2 linked regions of the Homo sapiens genome follow. The protein of the gene in region 1 purifies or fractionates together with the protein of each later gene. This does not show direct contact. Each region holds a gene or a part of one and is shown on either strand. Other genes may lie near its edges.

Region 1 (3,500 bases):
ATTTCAAAGCTGTTATTAAAAAAAAAAAGTGAAACGTAAGCCCTCCTTCAAAAAGCAACTCAGAAGCCCATGAGGCCTGAACTCCCAGGAGCCATGGGAGAACACCGTGTGCCTTCCCGCCTTCTACCCCAGCAAGAGCCCAGCCAGCGGTGCCTCCCTCTCCTGTGTCCACAGTGTCACTCACATCTTCACAGCCCCAAGTTCTGTAAGAGTAAGGACCTGAGCATCGGTTCATCTGGCACTCCTCCCGGCATCTCATGCAGTGACCTGCTCAGTGAGAGTGTGTGGAGTTGGACTCTGCAACTGTTCTTAGAACTGAAAACTCTGCTTTCCTTTCGAAGTTAATGCACTGACAACAGCTGCAACTTTCAGGAACGTGACTGAGAAGGGAGCAGCCGACATACACTTTCATTCTTTTACTTTTGTTATTTTTTTTTTAATTTTTGAGACAGGGTCTTGCTCTGTCACCCAGGCTGGAGTGTAGTGGCGCAATCTCAGCTCACCACACCCTTGACCTCCCATGCTCAAGAGATCCTCTTGCCTCAGCCTCCTGAGTAGCTGGGGCTACAGGCATGCGCCACCATGCTCAGCTAATTTTTTTAAATTTTTTATTTGTAGAGACTGTCTCGCCATGTCCCCCAGGATGGTCTCAAACTCCAGAGCTCAAGCAATTCTCCCGCCTCAGCCTCTGAAAGTGCTGGGATTATAGGCACAAGCCACCTCATCCGGCCTCTTTTACTTTGTACACTTCTGTATTGTCCCAATGTTTTACAGTCTTTATTGCCTTTATTACGGGGAAGAAGGAAGGGAAGGAGGCAAGAAACAGAATGGTCCTTAGAAACATTGTGCCTTGGACAGAGCTTTTCTTACATCAAATTATAATAAATAAGAACCTCTCAAGATTGGAAATCAATTCAACAGTAAAGGCTTAAAAATCTGAAAAGCTGATTTTCACAATCGGAAACGTTACCTCTTCCTTGGACAAATGCCTGAATTTTGTCTGATATCGACTGAGTTCTACATTCAAACGATGGACAGTCATTTTCAATCCATCATTTTCATCCACCAGTTCTTGAGCTTGTTTTCGCAGATAAAGTAATTCAGGTGCAGCAACTAGGGAAAAAAATTTAATATTATACTATAAGAAATAACATCCAATTTATCCAGATTTTATTAAATTGCAAATCGTTTGCTTTTCTCCCCTCTTTCACGCTCAGAGGCAATGAACTGTGTGTGCGTGTGTGTCTGTGTGTGTATGTGTGTCTGTGTGTGTGAATGAATAAAAGTTACAACGTTTTTTAACACTGAATAGTTAACGTTATATTGAAAGTTTGTGGAAGTTTTTGCATGTACAATAAAGTAAAATAAAAATTTCAAGTTGGAAAGGAATAGTCATTGTTTCAGATGACATAAGAATATGTGCTTTGAAAAATCATACAGAGGCCGGGTGCGGTGGCTCACGCCTGTAATCCCAGCACTTTGGGAGGCCGAGGCGGGTGGATCACGAGGTGAGGAGATCGAGACCATCCTGGCTAACACGGTGAAACCCCGTCTCTACTAAATATACAAAAAATTAGCCGGGCGTAATGGCGGGCGCCTATATTCCCAGCTACTTGGGAGGCTGAGGCAGGAGAATGGCGTGAACCCAGGGGGTGGAGCTCGCAGTGAGCCGAAATCACGCCACTGCACTCCAGCCTGGGCAACAGAGGGAGACTCCATCTCACAAAAAAAAAAAAAGAAAGAGAAAAATCATATAGAATACATGGAAAATGTATTAGAGCTAATAACCTTCCCACATAATAGCAATGTCCTATTAGAAAACAAAACAGAAAATAGATCCCACAAGGTAACAGCACAAATAATATATAGTATCTAAAAATAAATGTGCCTAAGATAAGAATTATGCAGGGTCTATGTGAAAAAAACTGACACCACCTTACTTAAAGCTATATTAGTTTTATATAAATAGAAAAAGGTATAGAGAAAATATTGGTGAATATTTATATAACCTTAGAGTTAAAAATGACTTAATACCAAGAGTGTAAGTCATAAAAGAAAAACATTTTATTGATTTAGCCCAATTATCAACAAACTAAGAAAATATTACACCTATGACAAAGGGATAAAATCTTTCATATGTAAGGAGTTCCTGCAAATCAATAAAAAGAAGTCAAGTGTCTCATTGTAAAGTGGGCAACTTGGCCATGATAGTGGCTCATATCTAAAATCCCAGTGCTTTAAGTGGCCAAGGAGGAAAAATCCTTGAGGCCAGGAGTTTGAGACCAGCCTGGGCAACACAATGAGGCCTCACTGCTATAAAAAAAATTAAAAAAAAAAAAAACTTAGCCAGGCATGATGGCGTTTGCCTTTAGTCCCAGCTACTCAGGAGGCTGAGGTGGAAGGATCACTTGAGCCCAGGAGTTCAAGGTTATAGTGAGCTCTGACCACCCCACTGTAGTCCAACCTAGGTGACAAGAGTGGGATGCTGTCTCTAAAAAATAAATAAATAAAGTGGGCAGCTTTATGAAAGAAAAAGAAAATGACTTGCAAAGATATGAAAAAATATTCAAGTTCAATAATAACAGAAATACAAATTAAAATACTATTTCTTTTTTTAACCTATAAAAGTAGCAAGGAAAATATAATCATTGGTAAGTCTACGGTAAAGGAGGAGCTTTTTTATGCTTCTCTTAGGGATAAAAACTGAAGTGAAATATATGTAAGCTAAGCATCAAGTTCCAAAAGAAGTATTGGAATCTCTGTTTTGTTTTTGTAAATTCAGCTTCTTTCCAACCTGAGGAATTTCTTTAGTGTAATAATGATATAGCAGATGAAATCAAATCTCAACAAACATAAGGATATTAACAAAAAAACCTGAAATATTACAACATAAATTACCAACACAAATATCACAACATAAAATATTAACTCTCAAAATAATTGAGTGAAGTCCTGCTCATTCCTCTAATAAAGGCACTCTGTCTGTCCCCACCTTCCTGTGACGACGCCTTCTCAGCCTCTTTGAGCTTTCTCTTCTCTTTTTCCATTCCCTTAAGTTTTAACTGTAGTTCTTTCATTGCTTGTTTCATTGTGTTTAGTTCAAGGGTAAGGCTTTGATTCATATTGTTTAGGTCCATATTTTCTTCTTTTAATGCCTCAAACTTTTCTCTGGTTATTTCTGTATATCTTTGACGTGCTCTACCAGTTATATCTGAAAGGGTTCAGGGGAAAATTTTACAATGTTAATTGATGTTGACAATGTTACATCAAAATCAACTGACTTTGTTCCAAAAACCACATCAGGCCTGGTGCCATGTTCTTTGGTCCCTGGGAAGGGAATGGCTTCTACAGGAAACAGTAAGTGGCCTGATGAAGTCACAGCGGGTGGCAGGAAGAGAGGTACTGAGGGGAGGCCAGAAAGGGAGGCCAGAGCTGCAGGAGGCCGTGCCTATTGTGATGTGGCATGGAAAGTTCATCTTGCAGGGCAGCAGGAGCCAGCA
Region 2 (3,500 bases), on another chromosome or scaffold:
CCGTCCCAGCCTCCCGCGGGAAGGAAAGGACATGTCAGCCGTTGGGTCAGGACAAAACCCTGGGCCAGACTCAGCGCCCACGCCCTCTCACTGGGTCCTGCCGCCGCCCACTGCTGAGGAAACACGAGCCGGCTTACGGTCAGCCTGTCGAAGAGGTCGTCCCGGGGGTCCTTGTTCTCCATAAAGAGCTGTAAGTTCTTGTACACCTGAAGGAGAAAGAAGGAATTTCAGAGGACAGAAAAAACCCGAATCCAGTGAGGACCTGAAGGGCGTCTACGCAGAGCCTGGGAGCCCACGGGAGGCTTCCCTGAGGAAGGTGGCCCGAGCAGCATCACCGTCACCTGTCGGCATCCTCCCGTGACACGGCCCCCACCCTCCAGTGTGGCAGTCACCGCTACCACACGCACAGGCAGCGTGCTCAGGAGGTGGGCGTGACTCCTGCCCTGCAAACCCCCTGGGTGACCGCGGCAGGTGGCCCAGAGTCCCCGGCTCCTTCTTCCATCAATGCCGGATTTCCACCAGGTGAGCCCACACCCTTGTAATGTGAGACACTCATCTGACATCACAGGACCTCAGGGCCTTCGGGGTTCCTGTGTCCAACCTCCCTCCACCAGTCCCTTTGGGGAGAGGACATTAATTCCCTTCTGGAAAGACCAACCCTGCTCCGAGGAAACGCCAGCCTGCACCTGCACCCATGCCTGCCCTCCCCTCAGTTTCACCTGCTGGTCCTCCTACAAGTGGCAGGCACCCTCCCTGAGCGCTGGGCATCGGCTCCAGGGCGGAGGTTGCTGTGGCCTCTGTGTTGCTCTCTCCAGCACCAGCATGGCAGCCCTCCCTCACCAGACACGGGCAGGAGGCCCCGCACCCCCAACTGGCCCCCTCATCAGCCTGGCACCATGGCTGATGAACCCCATTCTACAAACCCACAGGCACCGGGACATGGCGGGAAGCCCCAGCCCACAGCTCCCGACTTCTGGCTTCTTCCCTCATCTTCCTCTACACGTTTGGTTTCACACCGCTGATCTTGACGAGGCTTTATGTCCCGCCTTTTTCTCTACATCACATGCATTCCGTTACCGAGTGCTCCCCTGGACAGCACTGCAAATGGCTGGCTAGTCCTCTGTCTGGACAGAGTGCAACTCCCCATCCAGGCCTGCACCACAGCCGATGCTTCACCACGGCAGGGGCACTGTGGTGAGCACCTCCTTGCCTCTTCCTTTCGTGTGTTGGCTTCTGTCTCCTACCTCCGATTAATTCATTCCTTAGGAATGACTTCCCGACCAGACTGCCTGAGGCCGGGCCCTGCCAGGGACTCCTGTTTCTCTGCTGCCCTCAACACCTGTCCCCAAACTTCCATTTCTGTTTTTCAACGGCTCCACTCCATCCCACGGTTGGGTCACATTAATTTTTTTATTTTTTTTTTTAATTTTTAGAGACTAGGTCTGGCTCTGTCACTTGGGCTGGAGTGCAGTGGCACAATCATAGCTCACTGCCGCCTCCAACTCCTGGGCTCCAGCAACCCTCCCACCTAGCCCTCCCAAGGTGTCTGGACTACAGGTGTGGGCCTTGCGCCCAGCCTGAGTCACATTTGTGCTTTTGAGGTGCAGGGAGTTCGTGCGTGGATCTGTCCAACGTCACTGCGACGTGGCGCCCACCCAGACAGGGGACACCGTGACTCTTCAGGACAGCCATTCAAAGGTGAGGATGCTCCCCAGGTTCCAGTCTTCCTTCAAGCCAGTCTGGAGACCAGAGATCTACCCAGCCCTTCCCGACCACACTCATCCCTCTGGGCATCTATGCTGGTGGAGCTAGGGGCTGTGGGGGTGGTGGGCAGCCACTAGTCCCTGCAGCAGAGGAAAGAGGGCAGCCCCTCCCAGGTGTACTGGGGTGAAAAGTGTTCCCGAAATTCATATCCTCACCAGAACCTCAGAATGTAACCTTTTTTTTTTTTTAGAACGGTCTCAGCCAGCCACAGTGGCTCATGCCTGTAATGCCAGCACTCTGGAAGGCTGAGGCAGGTAGATCACGAGGTCAAGAGTTCAACACCAGCCTGGCCAACATGGTGAAACCCTGTCTCTACTAAGAATACAAAAATCAGCTGAGCTTGGTGGCAGGCACCTGTAATCCCAGCTACTCGGGAGGCTGAGGCAGGAGAATCGCTTGAACCCAGGAGGCGGAGGTCGCAGTCAGCCAAGATCTCACCACTGTACTCCAGCCTGAGCAACAGTGCGAGACACCGTCTTGAAAAAAGAAAAAAAATTTAAAGAAGACAGGGTCTCATTTTGTCACCCAGGCAGGAGTGCAGTGGTGCCATCTTGGCTCACTGCAAGCTCCGCCTCCTGGGTTCACGCCATTCTCCTGCCTCAGCCTCTCAAGTAGCTGGGACTATAGGCGCTCGCCACGATGCCCGGCTAATTTTTTTTGTATTTTTAGTAGAGACGGGGTTTCACCATGTTAGCCAGGATGGTCTCGATCTCCTGACCTCGTGATCCACCCGCCTTGGCCTCCCAAAGTGCTGGGATTACAGGCGTGAGCCACCTTGCCCGGCTGTTTTTTTAAATTATTATTTCAGAGACAGGGTCTCATTATGTTGCCCAAGTGGTCTCAAACTCCTGGGCTCAAGTGATCCTCCCACCTCAGCCTCCCGAAGCACTGAGATTACAGGAGTGCACCACCATGCCTGGCCAGAACGTGACCTTATTTAAAAACAGGGTCTTTAGAGACTGATAAGATGAAGTCATAGAAAGAGTGGGCTGGGCCCTAACTCCAATACGACAGCGTCCTTGTGAGAACACGCAGAGGCAGAGATGCAGGGAGAAGATGGCCATGTGACAACGGAGGCAGAGACTGGGATGAGGCAGCCTCAGGCCAAGGACACGCAGGATCCGTGGCCCCACCAGATGCTGGGAAGGCAGGAGGATCCTCCCCGAGTGTGGGCGGGATGTGGCTCTGCCAGCACCTTGACTCAGACTCTGGCCCCCAGGGCTGAGCGACAATAAACGTCTGTTAAACCACTGGGTCTGCAGTGCCTTCCTCCAGCAGCCCTGGGAGATGCTCCGGCCGGGGGGCAGGAGACGAAGCTGGCGTGACACACGTGCCCTTTTCAGCCCCCGACCAGCTCCCTTGTGAACCCTTGGGTCTACCATGGTGCACAGCCTCTCCTTCACCTTTACCCCGATCAGCCCCGGCACAGCAGGCCTCACCCAGCAGGCAGGACGTGGCAAACGGGCCACAGACCCCACGGCAGCTCCGGCACGCCCCCAGACATCCAGAGCAAATACGTGTCACATAGCGGGGGCAGCTGGCGCGAGGGCACTCACCGGCTTCTCCACCGGCACTCTGTTGTAGTAGCGGATGCAGTCCTTCCCCAGGAAGTCAAATTCCACCACGTGTTGGCAGCCATCGGCCTCCGGGTGCAGCTGGACGTGCTCCACGCGGAGGGAACAGCAGCCCACGGTGTCGGCCGCCTCACCGTCCTCCTTCTCATTTCCTGCTCTCAG

The links. Proteins that work in one complex are often made in the same cells at the same time.
Region 2: the proteins of CEP89 (region 1) and TOP1MT purify together in Homo sapiens (affinity purification with mass spectrometry; one large-scale study listed by BioGRID and IntAct). This does not show direct contact.

Annotation. Positions count from the first base shown.
Region 1 is NC_000019.10:32,930,459-32,933,958, forward strand, and holds part of CEP89 (centrosomal protein of 89 kDa), read right to left. Parts: intron 3,212-3,500; coding exon 2,993-3,211; intron 1,114-2,992; coding exon 971-1,113; intron 1-970. UniProt on the Homo sapiens protein: Required for ciliogenesis. Also plays a role in mitochondrial metabolism where it may modulate complex IV activity.
Region 2 is NC_000008.11:143,317,881-143,321,380, forward strand, and holds part of TOP1MT (DNA topoisomerase I, mitochondrial isoform 1 precursor), read right to left. Parts: coding exon 3,321-3,500; intron 207-3,320; coding exon 138-206; intron 1-137. UniProt on the Homo sapiens protein: Releases the supercoiling and torsional tension of DNA introduced during duplication of mitochondrial DNA by transiently cleaving and rejoining one strand of the DNA duplex.